5 separate regions of the Homo sapiens genome follow, and regions 1, 2, 4 and 5 are each linked to region 3. Evidence: fine-mapped expression QTL. A gene starts in region 3. Each other region holds a variant in brackets. All regions are shown on one strand. Distances are between the middles of the regions.

Evidence for each region.
Region 1: its variant is fine-mapped to the expression of NDST1 in blood mononuclear cells (TOPMed, PIP above 0.99). The same link has a PIP of 0.9 or more in lung, sigmoid colon and whole blood.
Region 2: its variant is fine-mapped to the expression of NDST1 in whole blood (TOPMed, PIP above 0.99).
Region 4: its variant is fine-mapped to the expression of NDST1 in whole blood (INTERVAL, PIP 0.98).
Region 5: its variant is fine-mapped to the expression of NDST1 in whole blood (TOPMed, PIP above 0.99).

What each region holds. Positions count from the first base shown.
Region 1 is chr5:150,555,186-150,560,266 of GRCh38, reverse strand. NDST1 (N-deacetylase and N-sulfotransferase 1) reads right to left here. Exons shown (of 15, transcript NM_001543.5): 15 at 2,056-5,081. Among named protein-coding and RNA genes, the nearest start is that of NDST1, 50 kb to the right of the region's middle. RefSeq lists an enhancer at 2,990-3,159. The variant C/T (reference allele first, on the strand shown) is at 2,090.
Region 2 is chr5:150,455,339-150,460,437 of GRCh38, reverse strand. No RefSeq gene overlaps it. Among named protein-coding and RNA genes, the nearest start is that of RPS14, 8.1 kb to the right of the region's middle. RefSeq lists an enhancer at 563-662 and a silencer at 1,467-1,536. The variant C/T (reference allele first, on the strand shown) is at 3,105.
Region 3 is chr5:150,505,215-150,510,313 of GRCh38, reverse strand. It overlaps NDST1 (N-deacetylase and N-sulfotransferase 1), which reads right to left and starts at 2,183. Exons shown (of 15, transcript NM_001543.5): 1 at 2,088-2,183. RefSeq lists an enhancer at 1-199.
Region 4 is chr5:150,651,882-150,656,972 of GRCh38, reverse strand. It overlaps SYNPO (synaptopodin), which reads right to left. Exons shown (of 3, transcript NM_007286.6): 3 at 1-569. Among named protein-coding and RNA genes, the nearest start is that of MYOZ3, 6.8 kb to the left of the region's middle. RefSeq lists silencers at 172-231, 372-591 and an enhancer at 4,855-5,091. The variant G/A (reference allele first, on the strand shown) is at 2,130.
Region 5 is chr5:150,475,573-150,480,671 of GRCh38, reverse strand. It overlaps NDST1-AS1 (NDST1 antisense RNA 1), which reads left to right. Exons shown (of 3, transcript NR_105061.1): 3 at 4,913-5,099. Among named protein-coding and RNA genes, the nearest start is that of NDST1-AS1, 7.9 kb to the left of the region's middle. RefSeq lists a cis regulatory region at 3,767 and an enhancer at 3,683-3,852. The variant T/C (reference allele first, on the strand shown) is at 3,098.

The DNA.
Region 1 (5,081 bases), 50 kb before region 3:
TGGAGTCCCCCTTTCTGCTTTGTCCATTTCTATTTTTCATTAAGACTTTTTCATTCCACAAATGATATGCAAATGCATTATCCTTGTCTTATATATATTTCAGCCAAGGCTGAAGTCTCCTTTGAAAGTTCCCCTTCTCAGTCTTTCCTCCCCTAGTATCAGTTTGATATGAGACGTCTATCTACAACCCCAGGAAAAATACAAACTGTAGTGTTCTCTTTCCATGATGGTCACATTGTATAAGTCTGTCATAGAAATTTCCCTGGCAGGGCTTGGAGACTGAGCTCATTACTTTCAACTGAATCATCATTACAGTGAATGGATACACTGGAGGTTACCTAGCTGAGACCCTGTGGATGGACATCTAGGTTGTTCCCAGCGTTTTCCTATTGTGAAACACACTGCCCTACACGCATGATCCAGGCTTCTCCAAGGTAACTCCCCACCTCTAGAAGCCCAAACCACTCCTGGGGCACCAGATTTACTGGGTGGACATCCCCGTGGGGGGTGAGGAGGGGCTGATGGGCTGCTACTCATTCAGCCTATTAGAACTGCAGGACTTTTAGGACCTCTGGAAGCAACTGGGCTGGGTTTTCACAATGTGTTTTGAGAAATCTTAGGGTTCCAAGATAGCCTGAGAGACAGGGAGGAGGTGAGCTGGGAAGAGTCCAGAGCTTCACTCCCACTCCAACCACAGAGCACCCCCACCTTTACCTGGTTTTCAATTAAGTGATTCTTTCAAAACAGAATCTCAGCTGTATGTAAATTCAAAAATCCCTGTTGCAGGCTGACCCCTCAGTTGGCACAGTCACCTTTCTGCACCATGCCTCTGGATCTGCTCTTGTCCATGCAGCCTCCAGCTGTGTTCTTGCTGGTGAGGGCCACCTGACCCAAACCAAGCTCCCAGCTGACGAACTGCAAAGAGGGCTCTGCAGGTGCTGCCCTTGTGCCATCAGAGGTGGCACTGTGGTATTTCACTTTGAACATACTGGGTCCTGGGAAGCAGGACTGCCCAGCTGTGTCCCCAGCATGCCCCTCCTCTGTCCCTCAGAAGCTGTGCACATTTCTGGGTACCGTCTCTGACAAACATGGTGGCCTGATTCAGTGTTCCCAAACTTCCCTGAACACCAAGGAGTCTGTTAAAGTACACAGTGCTGGGTCCCACCCCAGAGGTTCTGAGTGAGCAGATTTTGGGGGAGCCCAGGAATGTATATTGTTTAAAGCTTCCCAAGGGGATTCTGAAGGAGCATGTCTGATCACCTGCATTGCAGACACTGGCCTGGGCCCCTACCTGTGAACTCTCCTTCTCCAGGCAAATCTCGAGTCTGGCCCTCAATTAGGCTGTGAGGGCTTCAGTCATTTGTTTTACCCTAAGTTTTCCTGGACAGTGGGGCTCTCCGTATTAATTAGAACCCATAGGAACCATGGATCTGAGTCAGAGTTTCCCACTCTGAGCCAGAGTTACACTGGGCTGCCTCAGTGTACTGGAGGGCTCCTTATAAATTCCTCAGTGTACTGGAGGGCTCCTTAAAGATGTTGGGCCCCACCCCACATCTGCTGGAGCTGAATCTCTGGAAGTAGACCTGGGAATCTGCATGTTTTAGGCAAGTTCTTCAAGTGAGGCCATGGAGTCCAACTCCCTCCATGCGTCTAAAAGGTGAGGGAAATGGGATAAAACAGTAAAAGTGGCTTGCCCCCAGCTACAATATACATTAGTAGCAGAAATTGTTCCAGCCCCCAAGTCTCCTCTCGGTCCAGTGCCCGACACCCAGGGCTTCTGAGCAATCCAGCTTGTCTGAGGGCTTCTATCACCTGAGATGCCCCCTGTGGCTGCCCTAGGATAGGCCTCTGCTGTATCTGGGAAATCTTCCATTTATAACCCAGTGAAAATGATCTGCGTTGACCAAGTCACCATGTGTATAGGTGTGTGCATACATGTGGGCACGTGTGCATGCCTGAGGTGGCAGGGACAAGCGGGCTTTGGCCGTGCATGCAAACACCCCTACTCCACCCTTCCCTGCGGGCCTTGCAAAAAGGTCAGACAGGACCAAGGTGTACAAACAGAACCCCACTTTATTAGCAGTTAGTT[C/T]GAGATTGTACATTAATGGAGGAAGGTCTCACCTTTAACACAACCCAAAACGGCTGGTTCGAGAGCCCTCATCAGGCGAACTGGATAGCACCCCCTCTCCCCACTCTCCCCACCCCCCTACAAGGGAAGGAAACCTCTGCCTGCTTCCCCAGTGTGCCCCCCACCCTCTCCAGTCGGCCCTCTCCTCTCCCAGGAAATGACATGAATTTCATGCACAAATTACAAAAGGAGCCCTCTTGCTAATAATAAAAGCTAACACAGTCATAGAAAACCCTCTCCTCCCTCATTCTCCTCCAGGGCCGGAAACAGTAAGAGCAGGAGGGATGAACTTCTTAGGATAAAACGCATCCAGTTTCCCCCAGGTTCCTGGCATTGACCCCACAAAACCCTATGCCAGTCCCTTAGGGAAGCTGAAAACTCGCCAGCCGTCTGAGCTGGCAAGGGCAGCCAGCCCACAGCTGTCAAGCCAGGAACCCAGTGTTGCCTCAACGGCCTGGGCAGCAGGGGGTCTAGGCCGCCCCCTCATCCTCACATCAACTAGAGCAGAGGCTGCCTCCTTTGATGTGTGAAAATCCCTGCTGTGGCCCCTATCTGCTCATTCTACAGATGAAGAAACTGAGGGCCTGGGAGGAAGATGGTCAGGCAGCTACTAAATGCACCCGGCTGGGATGAAACTTCACAGCTCCTGCTGCCAGCCAGGGCTCTTCTCACACCACAGCTTGCGGGAGGCAGTTCCCCATGTAGGCTTTTCCCTGCTGCAACTGAGAGCCTGGCTCTGCTCCAGTGCACACAGACCACGGGTCTCCAGGAAATGAAAACCCTGGGACCCCAAAATAGAAAGAGAGAGACATATGATGTGTTTGGTGCCCTGTGGCCCATCCCCAGGGTCGAAGGCCCAGCCTTCAGGCATGCAGCCTCCTCCTTCCAGAGCCCTGTGTCCTTCCTTCCAAGGCCCAGATATTACGGCCTTCTCCAGGGAGACTTTCCGGCCCCCCCAGAGCTCTTGCTCTAACTGGCCCCTCTGCTGTTTTGGCACTTGGTACAGGTGACAGTGGAGGCGCATCTTAGGCAGAAGTGAAGCTGTCAAGTCAGCACAAAAGGCAAAATCTCATGTAGCCTAAATTATCCTTGAAAGTACAGGGGATAGAAGAAGTGGTTATGCGACACCATGAGCAAACAATCTGACAAATTCAGAATGTGGGGCTTCAAAAAGACAGCAGGCCTAGGGCCTCAAAAACAATGTCATTTAAAAACTCAAAGTGAGCTGAGGGAAGACCTTTCAGCATTCAAAGAGGTTTTAAAAACATAGTTAGAAAATGCAATGTGTGCACCGTGACTGGATGCTGATTCCAAAACCAGACACATAAGTTACCTGGGAGACAATTGGGGGGATTTGAATACAGATTAGATAGCAGACATCGCTGGGAAATGACTTCTCGTCTTGGCTGTGATACTGGGCCAATGTGTAGGACAATGCCCTAACTCTTAGGAGATGCAGGCTGAAGCTTTCAGGGATCAAGTTTCATGATGTTTGCAATGTACTTTTAAATTAGGACAGAGAAAACATATACATACACAGAGAGAGAAAAAGAATGTGGCAAAATGTTAATAATTTTAGATCTAGATGCTGGGGAGTGGGCATTCATAATTAAATGTTTGGTAAAACATTGTTGTATTTGCTTTTCCCACTAACAAGCCCATGGGCACAGCTCTGTGCTGGGACCACCAACCTCTGCAGGTCAGCGCAGCAGCTCTCCTCTGCTGGGAACAGATGGCTTCCTTAGCTGGGCCCAGAAGCACTGACTGCTCATCAGGGGGGCTCAGAAAAGGCCCATTTTTAAACTTCAGACTCATCCTCCAAGCAGCAGGATGCTCCACCACAGAAGGCTCTGGAACTCTGAATGACTGAGGCAGCTGCAGGTGACACTCGCACCTGCACCCACCCTGGGGCAAAGGCTCATGGAGGGGACCACAGAATAGACGATGGAGCCACCTGAACAATTTCAGTTATTTCTCTCTCCTTTTTTTGGCCAAATGCTTAGAGTGAATTAGTGGACATTGAAGACTGGCCTCGCTGGCCCACTCATCTGTGGCTTCTCTTCTCGGGAGGGGGTGTCCTTGTACCCATTAGCTAACAGCCCCCCAGGCAGCTTATCTGCCTCTCCTTCTACCCCCCATACCTGCAAGTCCCGGCAGTGTCTGGACCTAGTGGGTCTTCAAGAAAGGTCTGTTAGTGGGAGGAGAAGTGGCAGCAGTGACCTAGGCAGACAGACTTGGAACATGTGGCAGGTCCAGTCTCCAGGCTTGCAGAAGGGTCCAGGCAAAAATCCAGAAGATCTCTGCTGTCACAGGATTTCCAACCGCCTGCTCCTTCCCATAGCCAGAGGCAGAGAGAAGTGGAGCTCCTGCCCTAGGCCAGCCCACCTCTCCTGCCTTCCATGCTCTGCGAGAGAGGCCTCCAGGCCTAGAGGGTAGATTTCCGAACCTGGGAGCTGTAAGATCCTCACCCATCCCGCAGCCCAGTCCCCTCACTGACGGATGGGACTCTGGAAGTCACTGCCCCTCTCTATAAGCCCCTGGCTCCATGGCGTGGGCATGTCTTCATGAGCACACAAGCAGACATGCCACCCTGTCCTCAGACCCTTTGCTGCTCATCCTGCTGGCCCAACGATGCCCAAGTTCCCAGGCTTGCAGGCCCCATTGAGAGGCATGATGGGGACACTGCTGTGTACACAGTGAAACCACCTGCAGCTGGTCCCACTGAGTGTCCAACTTTCTTCATCCCAGCAGAGAACTGGAGAAAAGGGAATCAGCTCAGAACAGACCCAGGCCCCCACAGGCTGGGGAAGGACCCCTCGAGGGAGAACACGACAGGGATGCAAACGCAGACCTCGGAATGAGAAGGCTCAAAGGCACCCTGGCTGGGAAGGAGTGGTTTGTCCCCATATCCTGGAATGACCATGCTGTGACGGAGGAAGGGACAGGAACCTGG
Region 2 (5,099 bases), 50 kb after region 3:
AGCCATCACTCCTGGCCCAGAGTGGACTTCTAAAGACAAATCAGAACATGTGGCTCCCTGCTTAAAGCTCTTCACTGCCTTCCCATGCAATCAGAATATAATCTACAGTTGGCCGGGCGCAGTGGCTCACGCCTGTAATCCTAACAGTTTGGGAGCCCGGAGCGGGTGGATCATTTGAGGTCAGGAGTTTGAGACCAGCCTGGCCAACATGGTGAAACCCTGTCTCTACTAAAAATACAAAAATTAGCCGGGCGTGGTGGCACGTGCCTGTAATCCCAGCTACCTGGGAGGCAGAGGTTGCAGAGAGCCGAGATCGCGCCACTGCACTCCAGCCTGGGCGACTGAGCAGAACTGTTTCAAAATAATAATAATAATAATAATAATAATAATAATAATAACAACAACAACAACAACAACAACAACAACGATAATAATAAATCTACACTCCTTGACAAGGCAGGGCCTAGCAGGCCCAGAGGATCTGGCCCCTGCCCTCAGGGACAGCCCTAACACTCTTCTCTCTCCTGGCCCCAGCCCCGCCTCCTTGCAGTTCCTCGGGCTCCTCCCAATTTTGGCAGCCTGTGCACTGCTGTCCTCTCTGCCCCTAAGGCTGCTCCTCCAGCCCTCCTCATGGCTGCACCTCGCACGCTTCAGGTCTCAGCTTCCATATCTCCTCCTGAGCCCTCCCTGTGCCTGAGCCCTGCCCACCTCGAGAGTGAGCCTACCTTGGAATCTTCTCAGGTGTGCGTATTTCCTTCATAGCCCTTACCACAATCTCTAATAATAAAGTTGTTGGCAGGCTTATCTGTATAACGCCTGGCTGTCTCCCCATTAGGTTGTCCCTTCCGTGGGGAAGGAGACCCATGTCTGTGTTATCCGTTGCTTTATCGCTCACCAGTGCCTGGCACACAGTAGGTGCTCAATAAACCCGCTGAATGAATAAACGACTCGGGATCCATGCCCTGGCACTGCCAGCCATTGGGCTGCCCTGGCACTGCCCTTCCCTTTGGATGGACTGAGCGCAGGCCCTCTGCGAGCTGGCCTGCGGCAGGCAGGGCACACAGAGGCCGGGTGCCATCTTTGTCCACTTCACCACCCTGAACCAGCTGAGTGACCTGGGCGCAGCCCTGACCTCATCCTACTTAAAGCTTCCCGCTGAGTAAAATGAGAATAATAATCTGAGCTCCTGGGGTGTGATGGGACACAAAGGGAGAATGTACATCAAGGCCGTCGTCACATCACAACCACATCCTAGGACGTCCCAACCATCTTCTGGGCTTAGACACCTCACCCTGCGCCTTCCGCCCACCCTCCACCCTCCACCCTCCACCCTCCACCCTCCACCCTCCACCCTCCACCCTCCACGTGTACCTGCCCCGCCGAGGCGGGTCCTTCCCCTGCAGCACGGAGATCTGGCGCCATCTAGCGGGCACTTCGGGAAGAGCGGGCGTTCCCCGCCCCTGTATTCCACGCACCGTGGGTGGGGCCGCACCCCGGGACCCCGCCCCGACATTCCTCACTGAGCAGAGTTGGGCCCAGGATCAAACCGAGGATCTGCCTCCGTTGGGTCAGAGCGAGGGAGACCTCTCACCCACCGCCCCCAAGGCCCAGGCCCCAACCTTTGATCTTACCTCCCACCCACCCCCTCCCCTCAGCACAGAGACTTCTCCCGAATCCCTGAATGATCCCAGGTCCCCTTTGATTCAAGACCTTTCCACGTGCTGTTTCGTGAGCTGGGAGTTTTCTTTTTCTTTTCTTTTTTTTTTTTTTTTTTTTTTTTTTGAGACAGAGTCTTGCTCTGTCGCCCAGGCTGGAGTGCAGTGGCACGATCTCGGCTCACTGCAAGCTCCGCCTCCCGGGTTGACGCCGTTCTCCTGCCTCAGCCTCCTGAGTAGCTGGGACTACAGGCGTCCGCCACCACGCCTGGCTAATTTTTTTATTTTTTTAGTAGAGACGGGGTTTCACCATGTTAGCCAGGATGGTCTCGATCTCCTGACCTCGTGATCCACCCGCCTTGGCCTCCCAAAGTGCTGGGATTACAGGCGTGAGCCACCGCGCCCGGCCTGAGCTGGGAGTTTTCTCCCACCCTCTTCTTCCTGTCCTGGCTGTCTCCTACTCCCATTTTGGGCCCTCCAGCAAGGCCCCTGAGCAAGCCAGAGCCCTCCGTATCCCCCGTTCCTTACTTTGTCCTTGTTTCTTGCCCATATTCCCTGCTAGACAAAGCCCCTTGGCAGCAGGCCGTGACACGGTCACTGTGTGGCGAGTGCTGAGATGACAGGTCCTGGGGCACACAGGGGCTCCCATCAGTTGCTCGCAGACCGCGTGTGAGTCCTGTGAGCACGGGGAGCAGGTGAATTACAGCCCTGGAGGACGAAGCCTGCCGGTCTCTAGAGGGGCATTGCTACAGAGGGAGCCATCTCCAGGCCTTTTGTAGCCCCTCCTCCCCTGGACCCTGGAGGGTGTGCACCTGGCCTAATCCCCAACACACACACCGCCGCTCTCCCTTGTGTGCCACACTTACACACGCAGACTAGCGCTCATGTGTGTTCTGGGGCTCAGACCAGCAATAGACCCATGACTCCACGACAGCTTCACAGCAGCCAACACTTTTGAGAAGGTCCTCCCTCCAAGTCCCAGGACCACCTGGGCCACAGTTGGTGTCTGATTCCTGGCTGTGTGTCCTGGTGAGCAAACTCACCCTCTCTGAGCCACAGCTTCTTCCCACCCTTCCTCTGTTGCATTTGCAAACTACCCTTCAAGGGGAGGAGGGGATAGAGCTCCTGGACAAATGACAGTATGAGCTGCTGCCGAGAATGGGGAGCACGGGGCCTTCCAGGTTGAGCTTGAGGACCCAGGAAAGGGCTTGGCTTCTGCTGCTGCAGGCTAATTCCTTGCTCTTCCTTCATCCAATCAACAGATATTTACAAAACACCTGTACCTGAGGTTACACGAATTGGGCTCTGGAGTCAGACTGCTTGGGCCCAGATCCTGGTGCCCCACTTAGAGCTGTTGACCTTTTCCTTGTGTCCTCAGTTATAACGGGGGGGATTAAACATTTTCTACCTCCTGTGGTTGTTGAGAGGAAGCTGCTTGCTTTCCACTTC[C/T]GGAATGAGAACTTTCTCCAGCTCCTGCTGCCACATTTGCCCCCACCGTCTTCCTTCCTCATTAGCACCTGAGGTGAGCTGTCCACATTCCTGCCTAAAGCCGATGCCTCCACATGCGCAGCAGAGGCCTTTACCTATTGCCTGCTCAATGTCAGGGCTCCAGCATGTTTTTCCTTCACTTCTAGACTATTCCCAGCAGTGTTAAAATATCTGTTATTGATGCAACCTTAAAAAAGGAAAAAAAAGAACCTCTTGATCTCACATTCCCATTCTCCATCTGCCCCCTGGCACACCTCTGCAGAAAAACTCAAGAGCTGTCTATGAAGGAACTGGGCATGGTGGCTCACACCTGTAATCCCAGCATTTTGGAAGGCCGAGGTGGGAGGACCACTTGAGCCCAGGAGGTCAAGACCAACCTGGGCAACTTAGGGAGACTCAGTATTTAAAGAAAAATGAGGGCCAGGCACGGTGGCTCATGCCTGTAATCCTAGCACTTTGGGAGGCCGAGGCGGGCGAATCACTTGAGGTCAGGAATTCGAGACCAGCCTGGCCAACATGGTGAAACCTCATCTCTACTAAAAATACAAAAATTAGCCAGGTGTGTGGTGCAAACCTCTAATCCCAGCTATACGGAGGCTGAGGCATGAAAATCGCTTGAACCTGGGAGGCAGAGGTTGCACTCAAGCCTGGGCAACAGAGTGAGACTCTGTCTCAAAAATAACAAAATTTTAAAAATTAAAAAAATAATAATAATTGGGCCAGGCATGCTGGCTCACACCTGTAATCCCAGCACTTTGGGAGGCCAAGGTGGGCAGATCATGAGGTCAAGAAATTGAGACCATCCTGGCCAACATGGTGAAACCCCTTCTCTACTAAAAATACAAAAATTAGCTGGGTGTGGTGGCGTGTGCCTGTAATCCCAGCTACTCAGGAGGCTGAGGCACGGGAATTACTTGAACCCAGGAGGTGGAGATTGCAGTGAGCTGAGATCACACCACTGCACTCCAGCCTGGTAACAGAGAGGGACTCTATCTTAAAATAAATAAATAAATAAATAAATAAATAAATAAATATTGGAAAGAGCTGTCCAAGAGGTGTGGACCTCCCTCTCTTACTCCATTCACACTTTTGCACTCCCCCCACCCAGCCCCCCAATCAAGCTGCTGTTGTCAAAGTCCCCAGTATTTCATGTTGCTACATCCAACGGTCATCCTTAGCCCTTGTTATCCTTGACCTCTAAGCGCGATGGCACAGGTGCACACTCCCTTCTGCTTGATTGCATTTCTCCAGTTGCCTTCTGGATGTGCCCTCTCCTGGTCTCCTTTCATTTCTGTTCATGGCTTATTTTCTTGGCTCTCTCCTTCTCTTATCCCCATGCTCTCAACGCTCAGTCCTTAGCCTCTTCTTTATCTACACTCAGCCCCTTGGCGGGACTCGTGATTAAAATCAGTCTTGTGATTTTAAATACCATCTGTATGCTGGAGACTCCCAAATTTACACCTCCAGCCCTGATCCACTTCTCAATTCCAGATTCATCTATCTCAGCTGTCATTCTGACAGCTCCACTCGGGTATGTAATAAACAGCTCAAACTCAGGCCTACGAGTGGGCATCTGATCTTCCCCTAAAAACCTCCTCCACCCTCTGCCTTCCCTACCCCAGCTGAGGGCAACTCCATCCTTCTGGTTCCTCCAGCCATAAATGCTAGAATCATCTTTGACAACACTCTTTTCCCATGCCCCATGTCTAGTTTAATCTATCAGTAAATCCTGTTGGATCCATTTTCTCATTTTCTTTTCTTTTTCTTTTTTTTTTTTTTTTTTTTTGAGACAGAGTCTCACTCTGTCACCCAGGCTGGAGTGCAGTGGTACGATTTCAATCTCTGCCTCCTGGGTTCCAGCGATTCTCATGCCTCAGCCTCCCGAGTAGCTGGGAGTATGGGTGCGCGCTACCATGCCCAGATAATTTTTGTATTTTTTGTAGAGATGGGGTTTTG
Region 3 (5,099 bases):
AACAAAGCAGCATATCCCAACACATATCATAACCTCCCTTACTGGCGGCCAACGTTAAGCTCCTGCGAACATGTGGGGCTGTGCCAGGAGCCTTACCTGCTCCATCACGCTCAATCCTAACACCCTGAAAGAGGTGTCACTGCTATGAGCACTTTACAGACAAGGAAATGGAGGCTCAGAGAGGGTAAGCAACCGCTCGAAGTCACACAGCTGGGCAGAGGTGGAGCTAGGATGCCCCTCCCAGCCCACCCCACAGCCCCTGTTCGTTACCCTTCTGCAGTCCTACTTTCCACACCACTCCCAAGCCAGGTCTGCAGCCCAGGAGAGAGGCTTCCTGGAGGTGACCAGGCCCAGGGCTGCTGACCCAGCTTCTCTAGCTGAGCTTCAGCCTCCTGGGAAAGCCTGCACTGCAGAGAGGTGCACCATGGAACCCAGCAAGGCAGGACTTCAGCCAGAGGGTCCTCACGCCCCCATCAGACACCCCAATATAAGAAAGGGGGATGGCGGCTCGGGGCAGTGGCCCCTGCCTGTAATCCCAGCACTTTGGGAGGCTGAGGCGGGTAGATCACAAGGTCCTGAGATCGAGACCATCCTGGCTAACACGGTGAAACCCCATCTCTACTAACAATACAAAATTAGCCAGGTGTGTGGCACATGCCTGTAATCCCAGCAACTCCAGAGGCTGAGGCAGGAGAATCGCTTGAACCTGGGAGGCGGAGATTACAGTGAGCCGAGATGGCGCCATTGCACTCTAGCCTGAGCGAAACTCCATCTCAAAAAAAATAAAGAAAGGGGGGCCACCTCCTGCCCCAGGCAGAGGCCTCATGCTAAGGAAGAGGCAGGAGCGAGGGTCAGAAGCAGGAGATCTCAGCTAGCAGGGCACCGCAAAGGACAATGGTGAGCACCTCGCCTCACGGCCTGGCATGTGCCAGGCGCTCTACCAAGCACTTCCCAACCCTCACTTCATTTATTTGTCATTTATGCCCAGTGAAGTAAAAACAATTTTATCACACCCTGAGCTTCTCCCCTATCTGCCTCCCCTGCAGAGGAGCTGGGAAATGTGGGTCACCACTAGCCCCCACCCTCCCGCATGCCCGACTCCAGGCCTCAGATACACCCTGAGAGATTCCAAGGCACAGGCAGACTCAGGGGCCTCCATCTCAAGGATGCAGAAGCCAAAATCCATGCGGGCCTGGAAACCACAACAGCCTCCCAGTCCTTCCCTCCCAGTCATCCCCTTCCTCTCATCAGGGGATGAGAGGTCATTGTCCCCTGAATGAGCCAAGCTTCCCCAGCTTGTAAGGTCAGGCAGAATGCTGGCAGGAAGACAGAGGCAGGGGGTGCCACAGCCTCCATTGCCGCCTGTGAGTCTCTGGGCAAGTCCCTTCCCTTCTCTGAGCCTCAGTTTCTGCAACTGCAGTGAGGGGTATGGACTAGAGGAGAAGTCTGTGACCTTCTGGGGGTTATAGAACCCTTTGAGAATCTAATGATGGCTATTAGCAGATTCTCTCCCCAGACACACAAATTCAGAGTGGTTGTGACTGGCCCCCATCAAAAGCCAAGTTAAGAACATGGAAATTCTCTAGGGGCCCCTCTGGCTTTGACAAGCCATGGCTCTCACAGTCTAGACAGGACCAAAGCCACAAACACAACATCTGAGAGCCCTGGGATCTCACCATTTCAGCTTCCCCCGTGGCCCTGAAATAAATCTTTAAACTCTTGGACCTGCTGGCTTCAGGTGGATTTGTGGACATGCCTAGCTGTCTGGAGAAGCCACAGGAGAAACTGAGCCCTTCCTTCCCATCCCTCAGCCTCCTCCTCCTTCTCCTCCATCAGGAATCTGCCAGGTCAGCCTAGACCTCTCCCTGGGGCAGTTCCGGGAGCTGCTTCTGATCTGGAATGAAGGCAGGACCCAGTGCCAGGCTCAAGTGCCAGCCTGTACCCCCAGATCCCTCCTGGGGACACACACACACACACACACACACACACACTCAGATGGACCTGGAAGGACTGGACAGGGCAGGGGGCCAGGGACAGTGGTCAGAGTGGACAGGAGCCAGCGAGACAATGACCAGACCCAGACCCACCGGAGCTCCAGGCAGTGGCGTGAGGTTCCTCTTCACTTCGCCACGCCCTCTCGAATGTCCTCTCCTTAACACGGCTGCACCTAATCCCAGGGCCAGGAAAAATGGCATTACTGTTGGCCCAGTCCCCTCCCCAGGAGAAAGGGAAGGCAGAAGCAAGGGAGGGAGGTGGCCCTAGAGCACCCTGCGCCACCAACCACGTTCCTAGAAACCTCCACGCCCCTTCATGCCACCTCCCTTGTCAAGGCCTCCAGCCCCTACCTCCTTAACCTCAGAAAGAGGATGTCCTCCTCCGATTCTGCCCCGTGCCCAGGGAACCACTGGCACCTCGCCTGCCTCACCCAAGCCCTGCCTGGAGGAGCCTTCCACGGGAAAGGAAAAAGCATGTCCCTGACCCTCATGCTAGTGGGTCTTCTGACCCTCTCAAGAGAGGTAGCAGCCAACAGCAGGAGGAGCACTCACTGGCAATAAGGATAACTGGGTCCTGGTTCCAGCCCTGGCCCTTCCCCCTCCAGACCTCAGTTTCCCCACCTGTCCTGAGAAGAAGAGGAAGGACTGGTATGCCCAGCTGGAGGGAAAAGTGTCTATGATGCTGGCTTTTGGCCCCTGGCCCCACCCAGCTCAGCTGCCAGGCCCTTCCCTGTGCCCCACCCTGCAGAGAAGGAAGAAAGGTGACCGGCAAAGGTGTGGAGGGTGTAAGAATCCATGCTGGAGCCTCAAAGTGCTAGAGCTGAAAAGGGTCTTACAAAGACGAGACCCAGAGAAGAGAAGCAACTTGGCCACGGTCACACAGAACACTGGAAAAGGGCCAGGCTGGCCAGGGCTTGCTTCTTGACAGCAAATGCTTAAAAGCACCCAGCTGAAAAGGTATTTGCCTTCTTAGAGGATGCCAAGGAGAGCACAAGGCAACCTGACAACAGTAGAACTGCAGGCTCTGAGAGCTGCAGTTAAAAAAAAAAAAAAGGTATGTTTATACGTGGGGCTTAAGGATGGAGGTTGGGCTGGCTTTCCAGGCTCCTCATGTCACACCACGTGGGTGGCCAAGGGTCCTGCCAGCCACAGGGAAATCCTAGGAGCCCCTTCCAGGGATTAGCAGCTTTGGCCACCTCTCAAGAAGTCACCTAAGGCCCAGCAGGCAGGCCCAGCAGTGGTGACAGAAAGAATGGCTCAGATGGACACTCCAAGACTAGCCCACTCTGGAAGATGCCAGAGCCTTGGAGAGACTGAAAATCCCCCAAGCCCCGTGGCCAGTGAGGACGGAAGCCAGGTGGGCTAGGGATAACACAGAGGAAGGGAAAAGCTTTGAGCCATCTGGAGCCACAGAAGCCCCCTAATCTCCTAGAGGCCTGGTGGGTACAACACAGGGCCTGCTGAGACCAAGGAGGCTTCACCGAGGGCCCACATGAAAGCAGCCAGTCCCTGTAGACTTGCTGGGGCTTGTCATCACGACAAAAGCTGGCCACCAACACGCCTTGGGGTGTTAAGGGACTCAAAGTACTTACATGGAGGCGCAGCTGGCAGGGGGAGGGGGCAGAAGGTGGGGAGAGGTGGGGGCAAGTGGGCCCGGCTTTCTCTAGGACACAGACAACAGCTAGAGAACAGAAACGTGGAGCAAAAAGCACTGGGTGACCTACTTCACAGAGGCTCCTTTTAAAGAGGAATAGGAGGCCTCAGCGAGACTCTAAAAAGTACCTCGCAGGGGTCCAGAACAGTTCATGGGGCCAGGAGACCAGGGTTCCAGTCCTAGATCAGGAACTCACCCAGGACTAGGCTCAGGTGAGGCCCGCGAGGAGCCTTTTAGAAGGTGCTCACTGCCAGGTGCAGTGGCTCACGCCTGTCATCCCAACACTTTGGGAGCTCAAGGCAGGTTGACCCAGGAGTTTGAGACCAGGAGTTCAACACCAGCCTGGGCAACATGGCAAAACCCCTTCTCTACAAAAAAAAATTACAAAAATTAGACAGCGTAGTGGCGTGTGCCTATAGTCAGTTATATGGGAGGGCTGAGGTGCGAGGATCACCTGAGCCCAGGAGGTTGAGGCTACAGTAAGCCCAGATTGCACCACTGCACTCCAACCTGTGCGACACAGCTAGACCCTCTCTCAAAAACAAAGGTTCTTATTCTCCACAATGTGCAAGCACACAGCGGGCACCTCCTGAGACGCTGCACTTAGATGCCTCACTTGCCTCATCCTAGGCCCGGCCTTCTTACACAACCTGCCTGTGACCTCAGGCAAGTACCACTCCTTTCTCGGCCTCAGTTTGGTCACATAAAACAGAATCATGAAGCCAGGCATGGTGACACGAGCCTGTAGTCCCAGCTATTCAGGAGGCTGAGGTAGGAGGATTGCTGGAAGCCCGGGCATTCAAGGCCGCAGTGAGCTACAACTGCACTATGGCACTGCAGCCTGGGAGATACAGCAAGACCCCATCTCTAAAAAAAATAAAATTTTAAAAAACGAGTTAATTTAAAAAATTGAATCATGCCATATGATTCCATAGACCCTCCTAAATCTAAGCTGGGTTATTCTGTAGGGAGCATAACCGACCTCTGCAGCAAATCCCCGAAATGGGCACAGTGGCCCCAGCTTCCTGCCATCGATAACCTGTCAGTCACCACGTTGTCAGTGACCACGTTCCAGGCAGAATACACATTATACAACCACCTGATGCCATTATGTTCTGGGCTCTTTGTTAAATGCTTGGCCTCTACTTGATCATGGCCTCATTTTACAAATATGGAGCCTGAGGTCCACAGAGATTAAGCAACTTGCTTAAGGTCCCTGTTGGGAAGTGCTTAGCTGAGATTCGAACCAGCATCTGTCTGGTTCTTAATCCCCACATTCCATGGCATCAGCCACAGATAACAGAAAACCCACCAGGGCTGGGGAAATGCCATCAGCTCTTTGCACCTCCCACATTTTCTAGCATATAATGCCGGGGCTAATGTGAAGGCAGGCTGGTGGACAGCCGGGAGCAGGTAGGCAGGGATGGGGAAGTCCGTGTGGGCACTAAGCA
Region 4 (5,091 bases), 150 kb before region 3:
TCCTCGGAGTCGAGGGACACGTCGGAGTCCGTGGGCGAGCGGCGGTAGAGGAAGGGCCTGGGAGGCGCGGGCAGCGGGCTCCGGGGACTGGTGCAGGACGAAGGACCGGCGGGCAACGGGCTCCGCGGGATGGGCGCGAAGGCTGCCCCCGGCACAGCAGCCGAGCCGGGGCGGGCGGGCTGTGGCGAGCGCATGCGCGGGGGCGGGGGCGGGGGCGGGGGCGGGGGCGGTGGCGCCCTCGGCGGGGAGAAGGGCCGCGGGTTCTCGGCGCCCGCCGACCGCGGGGAGGCGCTCTTGCGCCGGGCCGCATTGATGATGTTTCGCGCCAGAAGCGCCTGCAGCTGGCGGCTGGGGGGCCGCGCCTCGGTCTCAGGTCGCAGCGGGGACACCGAGCGCTCGCTCCACGAGGGAGACATGGGCGGTGGCGGCGGCAGCGGCGGGGGGCTGCTCATGCTGCTCCCGCGACCTGGCTCCCACGGGCCCGGGCTCACCCAGCCGTCTAGGCTGCTGGGGGGCCGGGACGCGCCCGGCGTCCAGGGTGGGGAGGTGGGCAGGCTCTCCCGGCGGTCCTGGGGAGAGAGCAGAGAGGGTGGGGCAGGCATTAGTGCTGAGGTCTTCCACACCGGGCTTTAGGAAGGGACGGAGTCCGATTTGTCCATTACACCGAGAAGGGAAGCCACCGATCCAAGTCAGGTAGTGCCTGCAATAAAACGCAGGCGCCCAAACTCTCAGCCCGGAACGCCTGAAGAGTCCCCGCTGTCTTGTGTCTGCCTCCGTGTTAAGAAGACTCGCTTTGGAGAGAGCCGCCTTAACTTACTAACTGAGCTTGGGCAAGTTACTTCACCCCTCTGGGCTTCAGTTTCTGCTTCTGTAAAATGGGGTGTGATAACAGTACTTAACCTTATAGGGTTGTTGTGAGGGTTAAATGAGATAACTGATGGAAAAGAACATTACATATATCGGCACATTCCTTGGAAGAAAGTGCTCAATAGATGTTGATTACCATAAAGAAATACCAGAAGGGCTTGGCGCGGTGGCCCGCGCCTGTAGTCCCAGCACTTTGGGAGGCCGAGGCGGGTGGATCACCTGAGGTCAGGAGTTCGAGACCAGCCTGGCCAACATGCAGAAACCCTGTCTCTACTAAAAATACAAAAATTAGTGGCACGGTGGCGCGTGCCTGTAGTCCCAGCTACTGCGGGGGCTGAGGCAGGAGGATCGCTTGAACCTCAGAGGCGGAGGTTGCAGTGAGCCGACATCGTGCCACCGCACTCCAGCCTGGGCAACACAGCGAGACTCTGTCTCAATTTAAAAAAAATACTAGAAGGATATACATGAAACTAACCAAAATGGTCACCTGTTAGGAAATGGGGTGAGAACAGGAACAGGGCACACAGTCTGAGGCACTGGGAGCTGCTCTGTCTGTGGCACATCCCGGGAAGCTTTCAGTCAGGCTAGCTGAGGGAGGCTTCGGTTTCCCCATGACTTAGGGAGAGGAGCTGGGAGGGAGGTCCCGGGCCCAGGGCCACATGGGAAGAACTAGATAGAGGCTGAGACTAGTGTCTCAGGGCCAAATGCCAAGTCAGGGTGGGCTCTGTGTGTCCTCTCATCTGACCACAGTGTCACCCTGAGCAGGGAGGTGGGGCCTAGAGCTCATGACCCAAGCCAGTCAGCAACTATTGAGGCAGGGGAACCTGGCTCTTCAGCCAAGAGAGTAGGCTGGGGCAGGGAGATGGGAATAAGGCTTTTTAATATATTACTTTTTATATAAGTTTAGATTTCTGAACCATATGAATGTATTATCTATTATCAAAATTAAAATGTAAAAATATTGACCATTATTATTTTTTAAGATGGAGTTTCGCTCTTGTTGCTCAGGCTGGAGTGCAATGGCACAATCTCAGCTCACCGCAACTTCTGCCTCCTGGGTTCAAGTGATTCTCCTGCCTCAGCCTCCCGAGTAGCTGGGATTACAGGTGCCTGCCACTACACCTGGCTAATTTTGTATTTTTAGTAGAGACGGGGTTTCTCCATGTTGGTCAGGCTGGTCTCGAACTCCTGACCTCAGGTGATCCGCCCGCCTCAGCCTCCCAAAGTGCTGGGATTACAGGCGTGAGCCACCGCGCCTGGCC[G/A]ACTATTATTAAAGTTGGACTTAGGGAAAGACCCTCTCAGCCCCAAACCATTTGCCATGTTGCCATGGTCACCTCATCATCTTTCCTTGGATGCCTGAACAGGGAGGAAGATGCCCCTGACAGATGGAGATACAAAAGGAAGTCGGGCCATTCCTCCCTAGGCAGCACACGCCCCTCACTGAGCTTTTTCACAGCAATGGGGAGGGGAGTGTGGTTTTGGAGAGGCCAAGATGGTGAACAGCTTGGAGGCTATGAAGCACTGGTCAGCGATGCAGAGCCATACCTGTTTCCTATGTACTTAAGGACTTTCAGTCTACAAACTTCATTCTCATCCTTTATCTCATTAGGTTTTCACAACAGACTAGTGAGGTAATTAGCATTACCACACCCATTTTACAAATGATGAAAATGAAGCTCAGAGGTGTAAATAACAATCTAGTGTGTTCTGCCCCACCAGGAAGTGTGTGTGTGTGTGTGTGTGTGTGTGTGTGCTGCTCAAAGGCTACATGTTTAAGCGGTTTGAACTGGTTTGAAAGTGGAGGGCTTGGGAATCCCTGCCTAACATGTATCTCCTGAACTTTCCAACTGTTCACCCAATCAGATTCCAGCAATAACCAGTCCACCTTGCCATTTAATCCAATCCAAATTCACTAGCAGTCATCCACCAGAGTTCAGAGCTAGCCAGTCCATTCCATGCTTCCTACCCGATCAAAATCTAGAACCATCCAAAGATTTATTCTTTCATCCAATCAGTGATCAGCCATAACCAAGCCAGTCATCCTCTCATCCAACTGAGAGTCTTCTAATTCCTCCCAATCCAAAGGAAATAGACACCAATTGTATGTTTTATCCAAACAGAATGTAGCAGCTGCTAGATGAGCCCAGACTCCAAACTGGAGCCCTTTAACCTAAAGAAGAATGTTATACAACAGCCTGAGCAGGACATTTTTCATGGGATACTAATGCTGGAGTGACCCTTAGAGACTCCCTAGGGACATCCAAGCTCCCAGTCATCAAGCTGAAAGTTAAGGCTCAGCCTGGGATCCCACTGTTTTCTTCCCAGGGTCAGAATTGTGTATACATGAGCCAGAGACACTGGGAGCTTCTCTGTGCCAGTGGAACATCCCAGTCAGGCTGGCCGCAGAAGGCAGACCCCACAGTTTAGGGAGAGGAGCTGGGAGGAAGGTCCCAGCTCCAGGGCTAGAAGAGGAGGGCTAGGGCCAAATGCCAAATCAGGGTGGGCTCTGGCATGACCCAACACCTGACCACAGTGCCACCCTGAGCAGGGAGGTAGGGCCTAGAGTTCATGACCCAAGCCAGTCAATAACCACCCAAGGCAGCGGAACCTGGGGTCTTCAGCCAGGAGAGTAGGCTGCACAGGAGAGCTATGATAACTACCTAAAAATCTCTAAAGCATTGTTTCTGCCTTTGGTGGCCACAAGGGGAATGCTGAGGCCAACAAGTGGAAGAAATAACAATTCAGCCAAGACTACAAAACAGAAGGGCTCAAACGGGATTGAATGTTGAGGGCAGTGGTAAGCAGATCCCCATCATCTGGAGATGGGCCAGAGCCTGACCTCACCCTAACAGCCATGCCTGGGCACTGACTCTGTGTGTATGTTTTTGAGTCGGGGGTGTGCACAGTACGAAAAGGCTGCAGGAAATCAGAACTGTTCACTTTCTGACAGAGAGCTCAATGCACCGTGCACACCAGAGCTCCTTGGGAATGCGGTGGGTGAAAATTCAAAAAGTAGCATCCACTCAACCCAACCCCAGACCCAAAGCAGGGCACATGTGTGGGGTGAATACATAAGTAGAACACAGTCAAACCTGGACTGTCGGAGACCAAATGGTCTCTGACCTCCTTCTGTAATCCTTTCACTGCACAGAAGGGGAAACTGAGGCCCAGAGATTGGAAGAGGTTGTCTGAGGTCACACACGAATCAGATGCAGACCTGGGGCTAGAACCCAGCTCTCCTGACCCTTGATGGCAGTTCTTTCCTCCCCACCAGGGGCAGAAACTCCATGCTTTTAGGATCCAGACAGTGAAAACAATGGCAAATGTGGGAAATGGCCAAATTTAGATAATGGGGAGCAGGGAGGGGACCTGAGGGAACTGGAGAGCGAATGCTGGCTAGAGGAATTTCTATTCCACTTGTAAAGAACCCAAACAAACCTCAACGAGAAGAGGTAGTGCATTTTCCCCAAAAATCCTCTAAAGTATTTTTGGCCAAACTCTGAGGGAAGGAAAGAACAAAAGGTTGCGATTTGCACAGGGTTCTGGCTCCCTGAGTGCTGTAGAGAGGAAGCCCTCATTTCCAACCCAGCACACGTCTGTACCAGTGCAGAACCAGACACACGGCAGGTGCAGGCAGCACGCAGGACACAGCCACACTTTCACACACAGTAATTGAGCAGGCCCACTCCACTTCCCAGGCTAGAATCAGGCAGGAGGAAGGGAACCCTGACCCCTAGCAGCACGGAAGAAAGAAAGAAGCAAGACGGATTTGAGGCAGAGTGTATTGAGAACATGAGAGAAAACAAAGTTGGGGGCAGAGCTCAGCCTGGCCGCAGGAGCTGCAGAATGAAGGGCGGGCTCTTCCATTGGTGGCCCTCAAGGGTAGAAGGGAGCAGGGGTCCAGGGCAGGGGCTTCACTCTGTTCTGGGAGAGGCCAGGCCTGAAGGAGCTGAGCTCACTCACAACTCCCCCACGCATACCCCCTCGATCTGTGTGAAATGAGCTCACTAAGAAGGCACCCCTGTTCCCATGGAGACAAGCCCAGAGCTCACAAAAACTGCAGGCTCAGCCCAGCATGGGCACTGCCTCCACCACCCCTTGCCCCACTGGGGAACCCAGAACTAGGGCTGGGAAAGAGAAGTGGGTGGTCCTCGGCCCCCAGCCTTGCGAAGCTTCCATCTGAATCCTGCCACTTGTGTCTGTATTCTCTCACCCCCCACAAAG
Region 5 (5,099 bases), 30 kb after region 3:
TTACATAAGTTAAATATGTAAAGCCCTTAGTGTGTTATCTGTTATAGGACAAGCACTGTACAGTTACAGTTGTCCCTCAGTATCCATGGGGGAATGATTCCAGGACATTTCATGGATATCAAAATGTGTGGATATCCCTGATATAAAATGGCTTAATATTTGCATATAACCTATGTACATCCTCCCATATACTTTAAATCATCTCTAGATTACTTGTAATACCTAATACAATGTAAATTGTATGCAAAGAATTGCTATATTTTTTAGAGAATAATGACCCAAAAAAAGTCTGCACATGTTCAATACAGACAATTTTTTAAAATATGTTTTCGATCCATGGTCGGTCGAATCCACAGATTCAGAATCTGTGGGTATAGAGGGTTGACTGTTTAAATGTTAGATGAATGATTCATTGTGATCCTTTAGGTCTGAGATTTTTTTTTTTCTTTTTTTCTTTTTTCTTTTTTTCCTGCAGGCTGGAGTGCAGTGGTGTGATCACGGCTCCCTGCAGCCTTGACCTTCCAGGCTCAAGCAATCCTCCCACCTCAGCCTCCCAAGTAGCTCGGACTTCAGGCATATGCCACCAAGCCCAGCTAATTTTTAATTTTTTATAGAGACAGAGTTTCACCATGTTGCCCAGGCTGGTCTTGAACTCCTGAGCTCAAGCAATCTGCCTGTCTCTGCCTGCCTCGGCCTCCTAAAGTGCTGGGATTACCAGCCTTTTTTTTTTTTTTTTTTTTTTTTAAATGTGTCAGGCTCTCGCTGTGTCATCTGGGCTGAAGTACGGTGAGCAAGATCACAGCTTGCTGCAGCCTCAAACTCTTGCACTCAAGCAATCCTCCCATCTCAGCATCTCTAGTATCTGGGACCACAGGTACATGCCACCATCCCCAGCTATAAGTCTCCAATTAAACTTAATTTCCTCCTGGGCTTTTCCTCAGACCCTAATCCAAACCAGGCTTCCTGTATACACTTCACATCTCCCTCTTTATCACCCTCGTAGTTACCTGTCAGCTGCCACTCTCTCCCTCTAGATTGTGAGCTCCATGTGGGCAGGACTGTGTGTGTCTCAGACGCCCTGAGCCCCAGTGCCCCAAACAGCACCAGGCACATTGTAGGCAACCAGCACATACTTGCTGAATAAACAGATGAAATGAAAGTTCACAGGTTCATTATGAAACAGAGGACACTGTCTACCTAACAAAATGCCCATCAATGGTACTTCACTCTTCATTCAACAATTATTAGTGCCTCTTCTATAGTCTTCCTCACACCATCCTGGTGGCAGAAGGGAAATAGGGAGACACAGAGATGAATAAGATAGATGTGGTTCCTGTCCTCAAAGACTATACGGTCCACTGTGAGAAAGTGCCGTAATGCATAGGAAGATACAACGCAGTGTAACCACGTTGTTTTAGTCTGTAACAATTTTGTTTCCTAGGAGGCTGGGGCTGGTCTTTGGAACAATGAAAGTGAAAAGTAACTGAAAACAAACACTGTTGCCTACTTCAGCCAGCACCACCAGTTCCCAGCAAGCTACTTTTCTGTCTCTCTCCCTCCCTCCCTCCCTTCTTCCTTTCTTTCTTTTTTTAACAGGGTCTTGTTCTGTGGCCAAGGTTGGAGTGCAGTGGTGTGATCATGGCCCACTGCAGCCTGGACCTCCCAGGCTCAAGCAATCCTCCCACATCAGCCACCTGAGTAGCTGGAATTACAGGCACGTGCCACCTAATTTAAAAAGAAAAATTTTGCAGAGGCTGGGCACAGTGGCTGAGCTGAGGCAGGAGGATCACTTGAGCCCAGGAGTTCAAGACCAGCCTGGGTAACATAGGGAGATCCCGTCTCTACATACATACATACTCTAGGCATAGTGTTGTGCGCCTGTGGTCCCAGGTACTTGAGAGGCTGAGGTAGGAGGATCACTTGAGCCTGGAAGATCGAGGCTGCAGTGAGCCATGATGACATCACTGCACTCTAGCCTGGGTAACAGGGTGAGACCTTGTCTCTTAAAAAAAAAAGAATTGCCGGGTGCAGTGTCTAATGCCTATAATCCCAGAACTTTGGGAGGCCAAGGCGGGCGGATCACCTGAGGTCAGGAGTTCAAGACCAGCCTGGCCAACATGGTGAAACCTGGTCTCTACTAAAAATACAAAAATTAGCCAGGCATGGTGACGCACGTATGTAATCCCAGCTACTCGGGAGGCTGAGGCAAGAGAATCGCTTGAACCTGGGAGGCAGAGGTTGCGGTGAGCCGAGATTGCGCCACTGCACTCCAGCCTGGGTGACAGAGCAAGACTCCATCCGTTTCAAAAAAAAAAAAAAAAGTCCAGGCGCGGTGGCTCACGCCTGTAATCCCAGCTCTTTGGGAGGCCGAGGCGGGTGAATCACGAGGTCAGGAGTTCGAGACCAGCCTGGCCAACATGGTGAAACCCCATCTCTATTAAAAATACAAAAAAAAAAATTAGCCGGGCATGGTGGCGGGTGCCTGTAATCCCAGCTACTTGGGAGGCTGACGCAGGAGAATCGCTTGAACCTGGGAGGCGGAGGTTGCAGTGAGCTGAATTCACGCCACTGCACTCCAGCCTGGGCAACAAGAGCGAAACTCTGTCTCAAAAAAAAAAAAAAAAATTGTAGATACAGGGTCTCCCTATGTTGCCCAGGCTGGTCTTGAGCTCCCCAGCTCAAGTGATCCTCCCACCTTGGCCTCCCAAAGTGCTGAGATTATAGGCGTGAGCCACCACACCCGGCCAGTGCTGTCTTTAGAGCAGGAAGAGTAAGTCCTGTCCCAAGGGCATCCAGGCCACCACCTTTTTCTCTGCCTGGAAACCTATTTAGCCTTCAAGGTCCCACTTAAGTAGCGCTTGGTCCAGGAAACCTTCTTGCTCCTGCTAGAGGTCTGTATGGGCCCCAGTCACAGCTCTAGTGATTTTCTGGGAATATAGCAGGATTTGTCAAGGACAATCCAAATTTCATGTCATTTGCTTCTTTAAAAAAAAGAAAAGGTGATTCAATGAATGTGTAACTACATGTGATTTCATGTTTGGACTTCAGTGGAGGCAGAAAATAGCCTCTGTCAGACCACGTGACCTGATTTGTGGTT[T/C]GGAGAACATGGTCACCATAATTACAGCATTGACCACATGCTGTAACAGTTTCCTCTCTCTTTCCCTCCGCCCCCCACTGCGCCCTCCCTCCCCCAACACACACACACACACACACACACACACACACACACACACACACTGAACTTTTCAAGTGCTAGGACTGTTTTCCTCCTGGCAGACCTTGATATCTGTTAAACAAACAGCAGAGAAAATCTGTAAAATGGGAAGGCTATCCCTGCTTCAGCCATACAATGGATATAAAATGTAGAAACCGAAGACTGATATAGGGGATGTGGGTAATTCACAGCAATTAATTACTGACTCTGATGCATGCCACCTGCTTTCTTGTATCTGTTACTTCAGCAGCCCAGAGAGGTACAGCAACTTCCCCCAGGTCACACAGACAGGGGTGGCAGAAGACGTTTGGAATCCGGGTCCATCCAACTAAAAGATGCAATTATTGTCACCACTCACACTACCTCCCAGTACCTAGGGGCCATAAGCCCCCAAATTCACCAAGACCACCTGGGCTCTGTGCCTCCTTCCCTCACTTCCACGGGATTCCCTCGTGCCCTTTCCTTCTACACACCACTTTCATCAGTGCCACTGCTGTTTGAAGAGCACTTCCAGTGGGTTCCCAAAGAAGTCCTGTCTTGGGGTCCAGGTTTCCTGTTTCAGGCAGAGCCTAAAGATGCATGTTGTGCCTTCCCAGACCTTCATCCCTCACTCCTGTGTGCTGCTAGCACAATCCATTTCACATGTAGTACTTTCCTCCTGGTTTTGGTTTTGTTTTGTTTTGTTTTTTGTGACGGAGTTTCGCTCGTGTTGCCCAGGCTGGAGTGTAGTGGCGCGATCTCAGCTCACTGCAACCTCTGTCTCCCAGGTTCAAGCAATTATCCTGCCTCAGCCTCCTGAGTAGCTGGGATTATAGGCACCCACCACCACGCCCAACTAATTTTGTTTGTTTGTTTGTTTTTTGTTGTTTGTTTGGTAGAGATGGGGGTTTCACCATGTTGGCCAGGCTGGTCTCAAACTCCTGACCTCAGGTGATCTGCCACCCTTGACCTCCCAAAGTGCTGGGATTACAGGCGTGAGCCACAGCACCTGGCCAGAAAGTACTTTCTAAAAACCAGGAAGAAGCCAGGCAAGGTGGCTCACGCCTGTAATCCCAGCACTTTGGGAGGCCGAGGCAGGTGGATCATGAGGTCAGGAGTTCAAGATCAGCCTGACCAATATGGGGAAACCCCGTCTCTACTAAAAATACAAAAATTAACTGGGCATGGTGGCATGCGCCTGTAGTCCCAGCTACTTGGGAGGCTGAGGCAGGAGAATTGCTTGAACCCGGAAGGCGGAGGTTGCAGTGAGCCAAGATTGCGCCACTGCACTCCAGCCTGGGCGACAGAGTGAGACCCCATCTCAAAAAAAAAAAAAAAAGAAAGAAAGAAAGAGAGAGAGAGGAAGGAAGGAAGGAGGAAGGAAGGAAGGAAGGGAGGGAGGGAGGGAGGGAGGGAGGGAAGGAGACCATCCTGGCTAACCTCATGAAACCCTGTCTCTACTAAAAATACAAAAAATTAGCTGGGCGTGGTGGCGGGTGCCTGTAGTCCCAGCTGCTGGGGAGGCTGAGACAGGAGAATGGCGTGAGCCCAGGAGGCAGAGCTTGCAGTGAGCTGAGATCACGTCACTGCACTCCAGCCTGGGCAACAGAGCGAGACTCCGTCCCCCCACCGCCCCCCCGCCAAAAAAAAAAAAACAGAAAGAAAGAAAGAACAAATGAACTTTCTCATTCTGTACACCAATTCCTTGGTGCCCCACAGCAGCCCTGAGAGGTAGACACAGCGGAGATTTTTTTCACCCGCATTGTACAGAAGAGAAAATGAAGCTTTGCCCAACCTGCAGGAGATCCCCTCACCTTGCAAAAGAGCCAAGCTGTGGGATCTTCAGTCCCTGGACCATTTAGCTTGACTAAGAGAACAGGAATGGAGGCCAAAAGATCTACAAAAT